2 separate regions of the Homo sapiens genome follow, and region 1 is linked to region 2. The links come from fine-mapping of genetic effects on gene expression. Tissue or cell type: sun-exposed skin. Region 2 holds a variant in brackets; the other region holds the start of a gene. All regions are shown on one strand. Distances are from middle to middle.

The links. PIP is the estimated chance that this variant, and not a neighbour inherited with it, causes the effect.
Region 1: KLRF2 starts here. The variant in region 2 is fine-mapped to the expression of KLRF2 in sun-exposed skin (GTEx, PIP 0.98).

The regions. Positions count from the first base shown.
Region 1 is chr12:9,876,706-9,884,816 of GRCh38, forward strand. It overlaps KLRF2 (killer cell lectin like receptor F2), which reads left to right and starts at 4,784. Exons shown (of 6, transcript NM_001190765.1): 1 at 4,784-4,960. The coding sequence starts at 4,891. It also overlaps a transcript of CLEC2A not described here.
Region 2 is chr12:9,930,562-9,938,672 of GRCh38, forward strand. It overlaps CLEC2A (C-type lectin domain family 2 member A), which reads right to left and starts at 1,809. Exons shown (of 5, transcript NM_001130711.2): 1 at 1,714-1,809. The coding sequence starts at 1,768. It overlaps LINC02470 (long intergenic non-protein coding RNA 2470), which reads right to left. Exons shown (of 5, transcript NR_104634.2): 5 at 6,018-6,253. The variant T/C (reference allele first, on the strand shown) is at 4,924.

The DNA of each region.
Region 1 (8,111 bases), 54 kb before region 2:
AGCCATGTAACTTACCGCACTGTGTAATACCAGAGGTATCAACGGTGAGAAAAAATTTTGTGGAATTTATGGCCAAGTCCTAACGGGTGAAACATAATTTCTACTGATCCTTTGAGTCCTAGAGCAATACCAGGTCAATTATAGCTAAGCATTTATAGAGCTTTTGTGAAATAGCTCCTGGCATGCTACTGGACCTTGCAGAAATAGATTACTTGGATGTGAGTCAGCAGGCATCCGTATGTTCTGAACTGCCATTAATAAAATGAAACCCACCCAGGCGCAGTGGCTCATGCCTGTAATTCCAGCACTTTGGGAGGCCAAGGCGCGTGGATCACTTGAGGTCAGGAGTTCAAGGCCAGCCTGGCCAACATGGTGAAACCCCGTCTCTACTAAAAATACAAAAAATAGCCTGGCGTGGTAGTGGGTGCATGTAATCCCAGCTACTCAGGAAGCTAAGGCAGGAGAATCACTTGAACCTGGGAGGCAGAGGTTGAGTGAGCCAGGATTCCACCATGGCACTCCAGCCTGGGTGACAGAGCGAGACTCCCTCTCAAGAAAAAAAGGAAAGAGAAACCTGTAAGACTCACCAAATATAAGTTCAGGCACTCCCAGCAGCAATTCATTATATGATGAGATTGGTATATCCAGAATCAGCACAGGCAGATTCTCAGTGAAAAGGCAAGCTGAAGACCCCTATGCCAACCAGAGAGCACAGGCAAGCTTCAGAAATGATACTAATGATACTATCCAACTGTTTCACTGGCACCTCTCCCTCGGCTCATGTCTATGGCTGTTTAAGATATTTCCTATTACCTGCTGATAAACAAGGAATAAAGTTTAGTTGGTTCTCAGAAAGGTCTGTTTTGGATGTAGATGAAAGCTCTAATTGGACGATGGTTACACGACAGCACCACTAACTGAGCTTCATAAGACAATAAAAATAACTCACATTTAAAACATATATGAACTCCTGGGCAATGGGTAACATGTGTCTCTGTCTCTGCCACTGGAGTGAAAGCTCCACGAAGTCATGAAATCAGAGGGGTTTATCTGTTTTACTTGTTGATGTATTCTCAGTGGTTAGAACTGTGGCTGTAGCATAACATATATTCAAAAAGTCTTATTGAATGAATCAATATACGAATGAATATATACAGAGGAATAGTCATAAATACATTAGTAACAGAAAATGAACAAGGCACAAATAGTTAACCCATAACAATGCATATACAGTCAGTGTATCCAAAGTTGTCTAAACACAATGAAAATCCAAGAAATCTAAAGTGAAACAATGCAGCAGCCTATCAGATTAAAAATGTGTCTATAATCACTTGAGCTCAGGAGTTTGAGGGTACAGTGAGTTATGATGACACCTCTACATCCAGCCTGGGTAACAGAACAAGACCCTGTCTGAAAAAAAAAATGCCCATTTAAGATTAAAATGATAATCTGGTATGGGTGTGGGAAATTCTAAATTTCAGAAGCGTAGAAGTTGTAACGTTTCTGGAGAGAATGGAGACTTCCTTTTATTAACTAATTCATACATGAGGATATGAATTTTGTAAAAGATGCACATTTTCTATGTCTATTTTGGATTTGTGGGGCATCAGATTTATTGAGTATCTCAACCCTTAAAGATACTCTTTTGTTTTATATGGGCCAAGGGGAGAGGGCAAAAGGAGACTAAATGCCATGAAGGAATAATGTCAGCCCACACGGAGTTTGAGCCAAGATGATGGCTTTTAAAATGGGAAGTAATGAATTTACTAGGGAAATACGCAGGGGGTTAAACTGACAGAACTTAATTACTAACTATATAGAGAACACTGAATAAATCTATAGTTTGGGAAAAACATTAAGATACAAATTTTAGACATCTTCAAGTTTTGATACTCTAAAATATTTCAGCATTCAATCCCACCAAATCTGTTAGACCCATACTGAGAGAATTGGCCCAGGCATAGAAGGTAAAGGGAAGAGAAGTTTCTGAAGGTACTTGATGGCCCTTGGGTAGAACTGAGGGGTCTGGCGCCCAGGATGGAGGGTGGGGGAACAGTTTTAAAGTTGCTACCTTTTATACAGTGAGGAGGCTAGGCAGTCATTGACCACCTTCTCTCTCCTTTCTACAGCCTCCTCCAGGCTTTGATTTCCTCTCTTCAAGGTCAGTTTTGTGAACCGATTTTTTAGGAGGATGGGGGGATGGAGAATGCTTTTGTGAGGGAACCTGGTGACGACCTGCTGTGGCAACTGTTCACTGTTGACTATAGATGTATTGGGAGATGCTACAGCGGAATCAGGCTTTCTGATATCAACGGCAATAATTTGATTCTAGAGGTCAAGGGGTTGCAGTTGCCACAATAAGCCAGAGGGAATGATTAGTAATCAGAGTTTTCATCCACAGAAATCTGTGACAATGATTAGCTGATTTTAAGTTTTGGGAAATGAAAAAAAAAGAAAAGAAAAGAAAAACAAACAAAAAAGGATATTTCACTAAGGAGCTGCTTGATATGCTAAGGAAAATTACATGTATGTTGCCCAGAAACTTAGCCCGTATTTTCAGAGAGGAGATTCATTGTGTCTTACCCAATCCCCAGACTTCCATATAGTTAGTAGGCAAAGCTCTTCGCAGACCAGGAACCACTCAACTGGGGAGGAGGTAGGTTTGGTCTCTTGGTGAAGGACATTGTAACATGGCCACAGGTGTAATTATGATATTTATTCCCCAACACCTAAACCGGAGGAAACTTCAGTCATTTTCTTGAATGACTATACACTGGGAAAAAGCTGAGAACCTGTGATGGTTTCCGGCTTGTATTTACAAACAGAAATAACAAGTATTTCTTTGCTGCCTTGCCCAGGTGTATGTCAGCTCTCCTGATCTCTGTTATAAGATGGCCCAGAGGGAACTAAATCATCTTGATATAGCTCCCAATATGTTATACCTCAGAACTGGTTGCACACAATAGATTCATTACATTGATGCTATCATGCCAACTGTTCCTGGTGAAAAGTAGGCAGTAAACCTACTACATATTTTTATAAGACATATGTTCACCACCATTAACTTGATCCAACTTGACCACTTTGACCCAATGAACCCTATGTTTAGAAGTGCACAGAAGCATTTTATCACAAACATAATTGTGCCATTTTGGAGGCAAGGCCTGAACAGTTCCAAAGAAGCACAGTAAACTGCATGAGCAGATGGCTCAGACTCCGATGGCACATGTTCGCATTCCTTTGCTATCTCCACCTCAACCATACCTATGACCCGGGTTGGGGATGGAAAAGAGGGTTCTGTACGATCTTACACTGAAGTAGTTGAAAAAAATAAGTTTATCAGTGGTTATGTAAAATACGGCAGCTGGAATAGATGCCACACTACAGTCCCATTCAGGAGAAGACTGTGAAAGACAGAAGTGAAGGTAAGTCTTCCCACTGAACAGAAGTTTGGACAATATGTCTGGTTGTGAACCTAACAGGAAGGATAAGCACTCAGAGAAATACATCTAAATCATCTTATCAGAAACTAATAGGTGAGATGACTTGTCGGAAACTCAAAAAGAACAAAATAGAAAAATGAATGAGAAGCTAAGAGGTACATATAGAGATCATGCAGAATGGACGCGGCGTGTGTAAATATTCATTCCCATGTAAATACTCACAAGTGACATCCAGTGTTGAGGAGGAGACTCAATAATCAGGTGAACACAACATGTGCTGTGGGAAACAGTCAGCCACCTTCCCCAGACACTCGGTGTTAAATCAATGGATTGATATTGAGTGGCCACGTAGCAGAAACAGAACCATTAGCATGTGTGTGTGTGTGTGTGTGTGTGTGCGTGTTAAGTGAAATATATATAAAATAAGGAATGTGATTATGGAGGCTGGTAAGTCAAAATTCTGCAAATGAGCATGGACAGACTGGGTACCTAGGAAGGCTCAATTCAAATGCAAAGTCCACCGTCTGTAGAATCAGGAGGAGCTAATGCTGCAGATAGTCTGAAGGCCATTGCTGGAGAATTCTCTCTCACTCAGGGAAGACAAGTCTTTTTGTTCTATTCAAGGCTCCAACTGACTCAATAAGGCCCAGTCACATTACAGAGGAGGCAAATCTGCCTTACTCAAAGGTCACCTATTTAAATATGAATCCCATCCAAAAACACCCTCACAGAAATAAGCAGAATGATGTCTGATCAACTATCTGGACTCTCTGTGACTCAGCCAAGTTGACACAAAATAAACTGCCACACCTACTGAAGGAAAATCTGCCTGGCGTTTTCTGAAAAACAAACAAACAAACAAAAAAGTTTAAAAAGTTAAATTCTTTGCAAGTGATTCCGATTTTCACTAACTTGAGACTTGCTGATCTTTTATTTTCCTATTTTTGTCCCATCTAACCATCGTTATTTGGACTCTACTAGTCAAATATGTCCCAAATAACAAAATTGCTATTTTAACTTTTTTAATTTGAATTTTTATTTACCTAGACATTTGTTCTGTTTGTTTAGAGATTATTTGTTTTATTTTATTTTTTCTCTTACTTTATTATAAAAGACATGAAGGAAGGAATTATGTTTCTAATACACCGCACACAAGTGGCAGGAACACACAAGTCCATTTGTTGAAAACAGTGGAACACACTAGCTACCTTTACCTTGAAATTCACAGAATTGTAGCCAGATATTAACAAGCTTATATCCATTTTCATTTACCAACACATCCTGTGTGGTTTTAGACATCTGTGTCTGAGTAAATTTTGACTATTTTTGGCCTTCCTTTTAGTTTTCTTTTAGTACCTTGTGCCAAAGAGACATATCCAAGGTTGAGATTAGTTTCCATTTTCTTTGTACTATTTTCTGGATAATAAGACATTAGACATTTGAAGAGATGGAGAATGAAGATGGGTATATGACGCTGAGTTTCAAGAATCGTTGTAAATCGAAGCAGAAATCTAAAGGTAGGAATACTGCTCCCCATCACCGCATTTAAAATTTCATTATTCTTCTAGGAAGAGAATTATCTTAGAATATTTTTAACATCTTAACATTGATCATAATAAGGAATATAAAAATGGTCATAAATTGTCTGTTAGATTATTTAGATTCATGAAAGCATCAACAATAAAAAGTCTGCATTTTCAGAGCCATGAGGTAAGAGAAATGCGAATATGACGATGTGTAATCCTGTGTGTTGTAGCATAAGAACATCACTTTCGAAGAAAAGGCTGAAAAATTGTGTTTTTACAGAAACTTCCTCCTACAAAACTTAAAGTTTATATAAACTTAAAGCGTATATATATGCTTATATATATATTTATGCTTATACATATATAATATTTTTAATCTTCGTAAAAGCCCTATAGGATTGGTAGAACAATCTACTGGGAATGCGAGAAGAGAGAAAAAAAAACAAAAAAACATTAATCTTTGCTCCTTAGGGCTGCTCTGTGGTTGGCTTTGTTTGCTTTTTCAGGAATTTTGAAAACAATCTTGTTGAAATAGCCAAGACCTAAGTTAAGATGACATAGGCCAGAAATTCAGAATTACCAGTCGCAGTGGCAGTTCTGCCATATGTATTGAACATTCTCGTGTACAATCTCATTTTATATCTAGCAAATGCAAACTTCCCCTGCACCCCCTGCCCCCACAAAATGACACTTTTGTTATTATCTGAAGACTCAGATCTTTTTTGTGTTTCAATATCATGAAACAAATGTTTACTTTTTCAATAGTAACTTACTTCCATGCAGCAAAAACTAGTACCATTGGTGTTAAATTGACTGAGGCAGACCAGGCACGGTGGCTCATGCCTGTAATCCCAGCACTTTGGGATGCAGAGGTGGGCGGGTCACCTGAGGTCAGGAATTCGAGACCAGCCTGGCCAACATGGTGAAACCCCGTCTCTACTAAAAATACAAAAAAAATTAGCTGGGTATGGTGGCGTGTGCCTGTAATCCCAACTACTTGGGAGGCTGAGGCAGGAGAATCGCTTGAACCCGGGAGACGGAGGTTGCAGTCAGCTGAGATCATGCCACTGCACTCCAGCCTGAGTGACAGAGCAAGACTCCATATATAAAAAAACAAAAAAAATTATTCAGACCCTAAAGCCCACAGACTAAATGTATGGCTCTGGGCAGAAGCTTTTAGCCTTCTTAAATCTCAATACTTTGATATATAATAAGAAAAATCTACCTGATGATGCTTTTATGTGGATGTTAAACTAAATTTACTATTTTTTAATCTATAAACTACTTTTTAATATACAAATGTGTACAGAGACTTAAAATCTGAGTATTGATACATAAAATATAAGATAATATCCATTTAAATTATGAATGAAGGAAGGATAGGGCTGGGAAAATAAATTGGGCCAGAAAAATTACTGTAGGCATGTTTGTGCTTGCTATACATTTGCTTCCAAGCTTCCTTGTTATTACTGACCTAAGGGAATTCTTACCAGTTGTTCAGTTCACATTGTGTATAAGATAAAGTTACACCTATTCCTTAAGATTGATATAATTAATCTTGATCCTAAATCAGAAAAAATATTTTCCTGAGTTCTCATGAAGCACATAAAATAATACAATTAGTGTTCTTGCAATAGTAGCACCAGCAGATTTTGTAAGACAATTTCTTCATATAGCCCTGTGTAAGCCAATGGCATCTAGCCAAGCAGTGCTAGGATAGGCCAGCATACTGCACTTCATGTACTCAGCTCTCTGTTCACCTGGCTTGATATAGTATGTAAATCATGGCTTACATGAAAATATTAATTTTTGGTCTATTGTTCAGTTTTTTATAAATCTTATTTGGCAAGAAGTTTAAAGTCTCCCTCCCTGGCATGTATGGAAAGAGCACTTGTTAACTACAGATCCATATACCCTTGATTGATATTTTCTCATAAAATTGCAGAAATGTATTTTGACGATTTTCAATTAAGTAGAAGTCTTTCCATATTTGCTTGAACAGCAGAAATATCTACAGGGAAGAAAAAGAAAGAAAATTATTTTGGACTTAGTAATACAGACAATTGAGTAGCAAATTTCAAAAGGTACACTACATACAGTAAATTCTCTAAGTATATACTATAGATCTAATCAAATGCAGTAAATCCATAAAACCTATTGAAGTAAAGCATCCACACAGAAATTAGATTTGAGAAACAGCACTTTTATTATGACTTAGAAGACAAATTATTTGTGAAATGTACAACCAAGGTGATGAAATTAAATGTTTGTTTATAGATAAAAGAATAAAAAATAGGGAATAATTATCAGAGTATCTCAAATTACTTTGCTTTCTCTTTGGCCACTAGCCTGGCAAACTGACTAAAATGATTGTAGATTGAGATATTAATTATATGATGTCTGCATATAAAAGGAACCTGTCATAGTTTTGTGAAAAAAGTGTATACATCCAATTTATTCAAAAGTGCTAATATGTGGAAAAAAGTAGATAAAATTGAAAGAGGATTATTATACATGCCCCTGTTTAACCTCTCTAGAGATTACTTGTTTATTCCTTTATAAGGAAGCTATTCTTGCCAACTCTAATGCGATGAAATACTATAGCATAGATGTCATATAAGCATCATTAATTGGAGATCTAATACTACCTAAGCTGAAACTGACTCCTGTCTAAAGAGTCAAACCCAGAAAAATATAATATATTACAGGTGTAAGGTGAAATAAAATGTGGATATTTCCAGTACAGTGACTGGTATATAATAGAATTTTAATAAATATTTCTTTCCCTCTTTTATTTCTTAGCAGTGAGTCACTAAATTGAATAACACACGTAATTGTGCCTGACATAGATATATACATTTTATATATTATTCTTTCTATATAATTTACATGTATAGAATAATATATATGTTTACATTGTATATATTTATATTTTATATAATATGTTATAACAAATATTTATATCATATATAATATGTATTTGTATGTATAATTTATATGGAATTTAAGACATCATTTTTAGGTCCTCAAAAACACCACCAAATAATTAACAAGTCTATGTCAGTACAATCCAAAACGTTTAATAATAGTAGTATCTCCTTGGTTTGGGATTCTAGACTTTTTATTTTTAGATTTTCATTTA
Region 2 (8,111 bases):
TTATCTCATTTTTTAATTTTGTATATTTTTCTTTCACTCTATTGTGCCAGATGCATGTTTTTTTCTTATCTATTTTGTTTGTACACTTTTGAAGTTTCAGTTTGAGGTATTTGGCTTTTATTAGTTTTAGAAGTTGGAATATTATTTCTTCAAATATTTCCTATCCGCTATTCTTTTTTTCTCTCTCTCTGTTTCAGATTCTTGTTATCTAGAAGGTGGCATTTCTACTTCTATTTTTCATATCTCTCAGCTTTTATTTTATATTTTCTAACTGTTTTCTTTTCTGTCATGTTTTTAATAGCATCTCCTAGGTCTTATTCATTCTTAATCAGCGTCCATTCTATTAATTAACTCCTCAAAGTGTTCTTTATTTCAAACACTATATTTCTATAATTATTATTTTCACTTGGTTTTTATTGTGTTCTTGGTGCTTCTTCATTTCATTAATATCTTTTCTTTTGGAGCATTTTTATTATGCTTTAATTAAATTCTCAGACTAGATGTTCTAATGATTCCTGCAGCCCGGCTTTCTCATAATCTTCCAGTACATGCTTCACAGTACTTCATATTTTGTCTTCTCGTTATGCAATGAGATAAATTTTCTTCCACTTTTTACTCTCTAAACTCTTAAATCTGTTACCCAGACAAGCCTGACTAATTTATTTGGCTAAAGGGATGGAATCTTATTTCTTTTTGTAATACTAATGTCCAATTGTGTAAAATGTAGACTAATTTTTAAAAATTTTCTTATGAAGTTTTCATAGATCAAGAGTTCGTAACTATGACCAATAGTTAGAATATACAACGAAGTAAATTTAACCTTACCCTAAAGAAACTTCTAAATAGAACATCCTTAAATTAAAATGGAAAGTCTTCTAAGACAGAGAGATATTATCACTGAAAACATTCTAGTATAGGCTGCTAGAAATGCTGTAGCTAGAAATCGTATGGTAGATGAAAAGTTTTACTAGGTAGCTACTGAGGTCTCTTCAACCTTTAAGAGTATCAGGCTTACTTATTATTAAAAGAATTATCCCAATTGCCCTGGGAATTCATATCAGTAAACTCTGATAGTGGTTTCAGCTGGAGTCCTTAACTCATTTCAAGATTTTACTTTTTATCTCTTCACTGTCTTTATCTTAAAGTTTTGGCAGGCTTCCTATTCCAGTCATTTGGCATACAATTCATTCGTTTTCTTTAACATAAACCCTCAGAACTATTGTGAATGGAGGGTGTTTGTATGTGTACCTTGTTTTTATTTATTGGTTTGTTTATGTTTCAATCCACTGAAAACAAACTTCATTGTTGGCCTTAGCTGAATCTTAAAATTTTTGAAAAGTTCTTTTCAGTCTTATGAAGTCACAATCATCAAGCCTCCTTCCAGAGTGAAGCATTTGCTTTTTATTCTGTATAAAAGTGTTAAGCAATTTTTTCCCTGTGAAAGTACATTTTAAAAATATTCTTATTGAGATATAATACACGTACCATAAAATTCTGCCCCAAAACCTTCTTACACACAAGCTTATACCCTCTCTTGCAGACATAAAACTCTACATGCTCTAACAGGCTTCCACAATTCTCCGGAAGTGCTTCCCCATCCCTCACTTACTTTAGTAGACTTTCACAGTAAGTAAAGAGTCCATATTTTTAAGCTGTCCTGTATTTTGTTTTATCTTTCCTTTACTTCCTTCTCATTCACTCTATAAAACTTACCTATCCGATGTATGAAGCCATCAGCTCTGCCATCCCGCAGCTCTGGATTAATCATGGCAAGGCGCTAACCGATGGAGATCAGTAGGAGAGGACTAGAAAGCTTTTCATGTACATCACTTATTTAGGCACTGAGCAAGCTTCAGTCAAAAGAGACTTAACCAATCCAAATGGAAAACATCAGTACTAATTTTAGATCAAAGATAAAAGTAGGCAGACTTGTTAGTTTAAGGAAGGAATTTAAAAATTAACTCATCCATAACAAAAGGATCGTAAAGTCAATCATGTAAACACCACAACAACCGTGCTATGGAACATTTCCATCATCTTTCTTTTTTTCCTTGTGTAATCACTATCTTTTCTGACCCTGGACCCTGGCAAGCATTACTTTGCTTTATATCAACATAGTTTTTCCTTTCATGGAATTTTTTTTTTTTGAGGCAGGGTCTCACTGTGTTGCCCAGGCTGGAGTGCAGTGGGGAAAACTTGGCCCATTGCAACTTTGACCTCCTTGGCTCAAGCAATCCTCCTGCCCTACCCACCCAAGTAGCTGGGACTACAGTCGCGCACCATCATGCCCTGCTAATTTTATTTTTTGTAGAGACTAGGTCTCATTATATTGCCCAGACTGGTCTTGAACTCCTGGGCTTAAGTGATCTTCTGGCTTCAGTCACCCAAAGTACTGGGATTACAGGCATGAGCCACCACGGCCAGCCCCTTTCATAGAATTTTATATAAATGGTATCATATAATATGTAGTGTCTTGTCTCTTGCTTATTTCATTTATAATACTTTTGAGATTCACTCAAGTTGTTGTGCAGGTAAGTAGTTCATTCCCTTTTATTTCTTAGTAGTATTCCTATTGCATGTTATACCAGAAATTATCTCTTTGATCACTAGTTGATGGACTTTTGTTTCTAGGGTGGGACTGTTATGTATGAAACTGCTGTACACAGGCATTTTTGTGTGAGCAAGTTTTCTCTTGGATAAATTCCCAGAAATTGAATTGCTGCATCATATAAGTATGTTTATCTTTATAAAAAGCTGTAAAACTGGCTGGGCGCGGTGTCTGTCACCTGTAATCCCAGCACTTGGGGAGGCCGAGGCGGGTGGATCATGAGGTCAGGAGATCGAGACTATCCTGGCTAACACAATGAAACCCCGTCTCTACTAAAAATACAAAAAATTAGCCGGGCCTGGTGGCGGGTACCTGTAGTCCCAGCTACTCGAGAGGCTGAGGCAGGAGAATGGTGTGAACCCGGGAGGCGGAGCTTGCAGTGAGCCGAGATCGTGCCACTGCACTCCAGCCTGGGCAACTGAGCAAGACTCCGTCTCAAAAAAAAAAAAAAAAAATTTGCTTCAGCCTGGAATCTTTGCTTTTGGTGCTTCGGTGCAGAGACAGAAAACGGGCACTCAGAGTCACACTGGTAGTTGCACACTGTATCTGCAGAGGGCGTGTCTCATCTGTACCCCGCTGGGTTACGGGATTTCAGGAGGTATTTTTGTCCACCTGCGAATTCCATTTATTACCTTTCATTTAACAGACAATGTCTTTCCTTTCTGCAGTTGATTTTGCTAAAGAGGCAATTCATAAGGTGAGGTCCTACTCATAGTATGACTTGCTTTCTCACGACCTCCTTCCATTTTTAGTAACTCCCTGGTCTATTTGGTGTCTGTAAAAAAAGAATCTGGTAATGGAGACTTCTTTTAATATGGAAATTTGGCCTGGCAATAACTTATTCCTTTCCACATGTAACTGACCCAATCTGGTTTCCAGATGACAAGTATGCAAGCCCCAGATGTTGAGAAGCCATATTTCAACTGCTTCCTGCATCTGTTGAAATATAATTGTTCATACTTGCCATCCCTTATGTTTCTTGTAACAATTTGCACAGTTCTTGCCAGAATAAATGCCATTCTCTGTATGCTTCAGAGAATTCCGCAATTTGATCAGTGTGTGTGTGTGTGTGTGTGTGTGTGACCTTCCGTAAAACACTTCTAAAGGGTGAAAGCTCTTGTATGGCATAGACATGAATTCCTTCCTCTGGTAATAATTAGGTTATTTCCAGAAGCACAGTGTCATTTTTTTTTTTTTTTTGAGATGGAGTTTCTCTCCTGTGGCCCAGGCTGGAATGCAATGGTGTGATCTCGGCTCACGCAACTTCCACCTCCTGGGTTCAAGTGATTCTCCTGCCTCAGCCTCCTGAGTAGCTGGGATTATGGGCATGCACCACCATGCCTGCCTAATTTTGTATTTTTAGTAGAGACGAGGCTTCTCCATGTTGGTCCAGCTGGTCTCGAACTCCTGACCTCAGGTTATCCACCCGCCTCGGCCTCCCAAAGTGCTGGGATTACAGGTGTGAGCCACCATGCCCAGCCCATTCTTTAAATAAAAGCTTTCCTGTTTAAGGCTTTTCAAAGGAGCAGACCACTTTGAAGATTCTCCCTAGGGTTGATATGTGTCTAATTCATTTTATAAAATTATTCTTATCTTCATTTTAAAGCTTTGGCTATACAGTCAGAAATGTCCTGGATAACAAACTATTTTGTATTTAATTTAATTTGCCTCTTCATTGTCTTATTCAACAAACATTTACAGAATGCCTAATTAGTACTTGGCATTTTTCAGGGTGCTTGAAATACGTCTGTGAACAAAATAGACACAGATTCCTTTACTCATGGGGTTTCCATTCCAGGAAGTTTAAACATAAAGACTAAAGATAGTAAACAAATGGTACAATATTCCATATTCCAGTATGTAATAAGTTCCACTGAAAACAAAAGATAGACCAGGTTAAAATTGATTAGTAATGTCAAGGTTGAGGAGTGTGAGCTGCAATTTTAATAGGGTAGTCAGGGTAAGCATCACTGAGAAAGTGAAATGTAAATGAACTTTGAGGAGGGAAAGTGCCATGTGGATACCATCATCCTGGTGGAATTGTGTGAAGATCCTAGGGCAGATGTATGCCTGGCACATTCCGGAAAGAGTGAGGAAGCCAGCTGTGTCTGGAGGAGAACAGTGAGAGAAGAGTTCAGCTAAGTACCAACAGGGTAATTCTGTTTTTGCCATTCTGAGGCCTGTGGCTAATATTCTAAGTGAAATGGGAAGATGGAAAATTCTTTTGAGCAGAATAGCGGTGTGATCTGACATACATTTAATATGTTCACTCTGGGTACTGTCCTCAGAATAAGTTGGAAGGGGATGCAATCCAC[T/C]CACCTAGCCTGAATAACTATACTTAAAAATGTTCAAAGTTCTGCTCATGTTCATAAAATTCAACCCGCAGCCCATTATTTGTTCCTTTCTCTTTTCTTCTTTACCTGTCAAATTTTCTCCACTGGGCGCTCTGACTCCTTTTAACATTATTTCTATTTCAGTACAGCTGGATAGAAATGTCATCATTAGGAGATGCAAAGCGGTCCCCTTCTAATGTGATAGTCACCACTCCAGAGATGGCTAATGGAGATGTTTAATGACCTTAAAAATGCATAAGTCTCATTCCCCATCCTCCTTTTGCTAACGATGGTCATTTTTTGTAGCACAATAATCTGAAAATTTTAGAATTATTTTTGTTCTTGTACAGTACAGCATGTAAATTATAATTTAACAACACCTGCATTTAACCTGCTAACACGGTTTACACACTATTAAATCCCGGCCCCATAGAGAATGAGAAGATGAGATGCTGATAAAATTTGCTTCTGATGATGCTGAACATACCATCTATTTTTTCTCTTCTTTTTTTTTTGAGACGGGGTCTCGCTCTGTCACCCAGGCTGGAGTGCAGTGGCGCGATCTCTGCTCACTGCAAGCTCCGCCTCCCGGGTTCACACCATTCTCCTGCCTCAGGCTCCCGAGTAGCTGGGACTACAGGCGCCCGCCACCCCGCCCGGCTAATTTTTTCTATTTTTTAGTAGAGGGTAAGGGGTTTCACCATCTTACCCAGGATGGTCTCCATCTCCTGACCTCGTGATCCGCCCACCTCAGCCTCCCAAAGTGCAGGGATTACAGGCATGAGCCACCGCACCCGGCCAACCATCTATTTTTTCAATATTATTTTCCACATTGTTTGAATGTCTGTAATGTGTGTGAGACCCAGCTGAATTTAAAATGTGGTTCTACCATTTACTATAATCCCAGGTAAACAATCTTTCATTTGCTCATTTATTTCAGCAAAAAATGATAAAAATTCTTCATCATTTAGGGGTAAAAATATTTAGCATAGTTCATGGTACAAGTTAATACTCAAAAGAGAATTACTCATTATATCAGGAAATGTAAAAGCGAAGAAAAGAAAACTAGGCCAAAGTAAAATATTAAGAGGTGCAGAGACTTTAATATCAGCCAGATGTTAACCCTTGCCCTCTGTCCTTCTGAGACCCGTGTAAGTATTAGCTGGAATCTAAACCCCATAGGTTTGTGGGAATCCGGAGAACTCTCCATGATTTCTTCAAGTCACCAGGGCTTCCTTCTTCGTGGTCCTCTCCACTTCTAAATACTCACGTTTTGCTCCCATGACTCATAGCACAAAACTCGATTCTTTCACTAGTTTCAGCAACGACAGCAACAACAAATCCACTTAATGTAAATAATTCGCTAGTTTCATAACTTGACTAAAGACAAAACAAATAGATTAATTCTTTATTTACTGGACCTCCTGAGAAATAACTGAGCACAGCCTCGAAAATAGAACGTAAATTTCATTAGCCCGGTTTCTAAAACACGTGCAGTGTGGAAGGAGTAGAGGAAGTGAAACAAGCTGTTGCTCTCCTCCTATCTTTCTCCAAATTTTACCTCAGGACCCTGATGGCAGGAAGAAAAGGACACTATGTGACTTCAGTGCCTAACAACACAGTCCTGGAAGTTTACGCTGTTGATACTATAGCAAACATTGTAATCATTTTGTGAGGGATTGGATTCTTCCCTTTATACTGTAGCATAAACATTGATATATCAATGTGTTTAGCCATTTAGAAATTATAAAGAAGGGGAGTGTAACTGACATTTCATTGAACATACCTTTCATATATTACAAAATTGGTCTATTAATGCTGAAATAAATGTTCACATTTGGCCACTCTTTATCACCATCACTGTAGTGAAACAGGTATTCTTTACTCAATAGATTACGATACACATAAGTAAACAAATAAAATCTAAAGAAAAGATTTCCTACATTTATATTTTATGCCATACATATAAACATGTGAAATTCAAAATTCAAAACGGAGGAAAACAGGATGGTTAATCATGATACATTTCTGGTTATACTGTAATTATTTGGGGGAACTTCACAGTACTGGTGTACACTTTCCTAACTTCTAGGGTAACTTCAAATTTTTATCCTGCCCATTCCCAAAATATATGTGTATTTTTATGCTTATCCAATCCATAGTGCCAACTAATAACAACCGTTATGGGCTGAATTATAGGCCCCCAAATTTCATACATTAAGTGCCTAACTCCCAGTACCTGAGAATGTAACAGATTTGGAGATAAGGTATTTGTTTTTTTTAAAAAAGAAGTGATTGAGGTAAGAAAAGGTCTTTAGGGTGCACCTTAATCCAATATGACTGATGTCCCTATAAGAAGAAATAAGTTAGACACAGACTTGAGTGTGTACAGAAGGCCACATGAACACAGAGTGAGAAGACAGCCATCTGCAAGCCAAAGAGAAGGGCCTTAAAAGAAACCAACCCTACTAACACCTTGATCCTGGACTTAACGGCCCCCAGAGCTGTCTTTGAGCCACCCATTCAGTGGCATTTATTACAGCAGACTTAGCAAATTAATACACCAATGTTAACTCCTGTCTCATTTTTTGATGGGCCTGTATATAATATGTAATGCCACATTAAGCTGTTAATATTTTCTTTCAAGAAAATATAATATTATGTTTTATAGTCAGAAAGTTTAATCTGTCTTTTTTTTTTACATTTTTCAAAGATAAAATATAATATTGGGTATATTATCCCTCTCAAATCATTGTGCATTTTCACCCCAAATTGAATGTAAATACAATAATCATAAGAGAATTTTCTCAACTTTAGAAAGTTCCGCTACTAACTTTATTATATTATATACAACATGTAATATCTGGCATGGAGTGCTACAGAACCAGTATCTATTACAAAGTGGGCAGTCAATAAATGGTAGCTAGTGGTCACCTTTAGTTCACCAAAGAATACTGAGAACTCAATATCCTTTATATGACCTTCTCCACCCTGACGTTGGAGAAATTTGTAAGTGTTTTAAGAACAAAATAGATTCTAAGTGTATGATGAGTTTTTTCAAGCTATGGAATATAAAGAAGTTCTTGAATTTTAAACAAAGGTAAACTGAGGCAAACACGTTCTCTTCTTAACTTACTCTTGTGCATGTCAGGCCACTGGTGGGTGCGGAA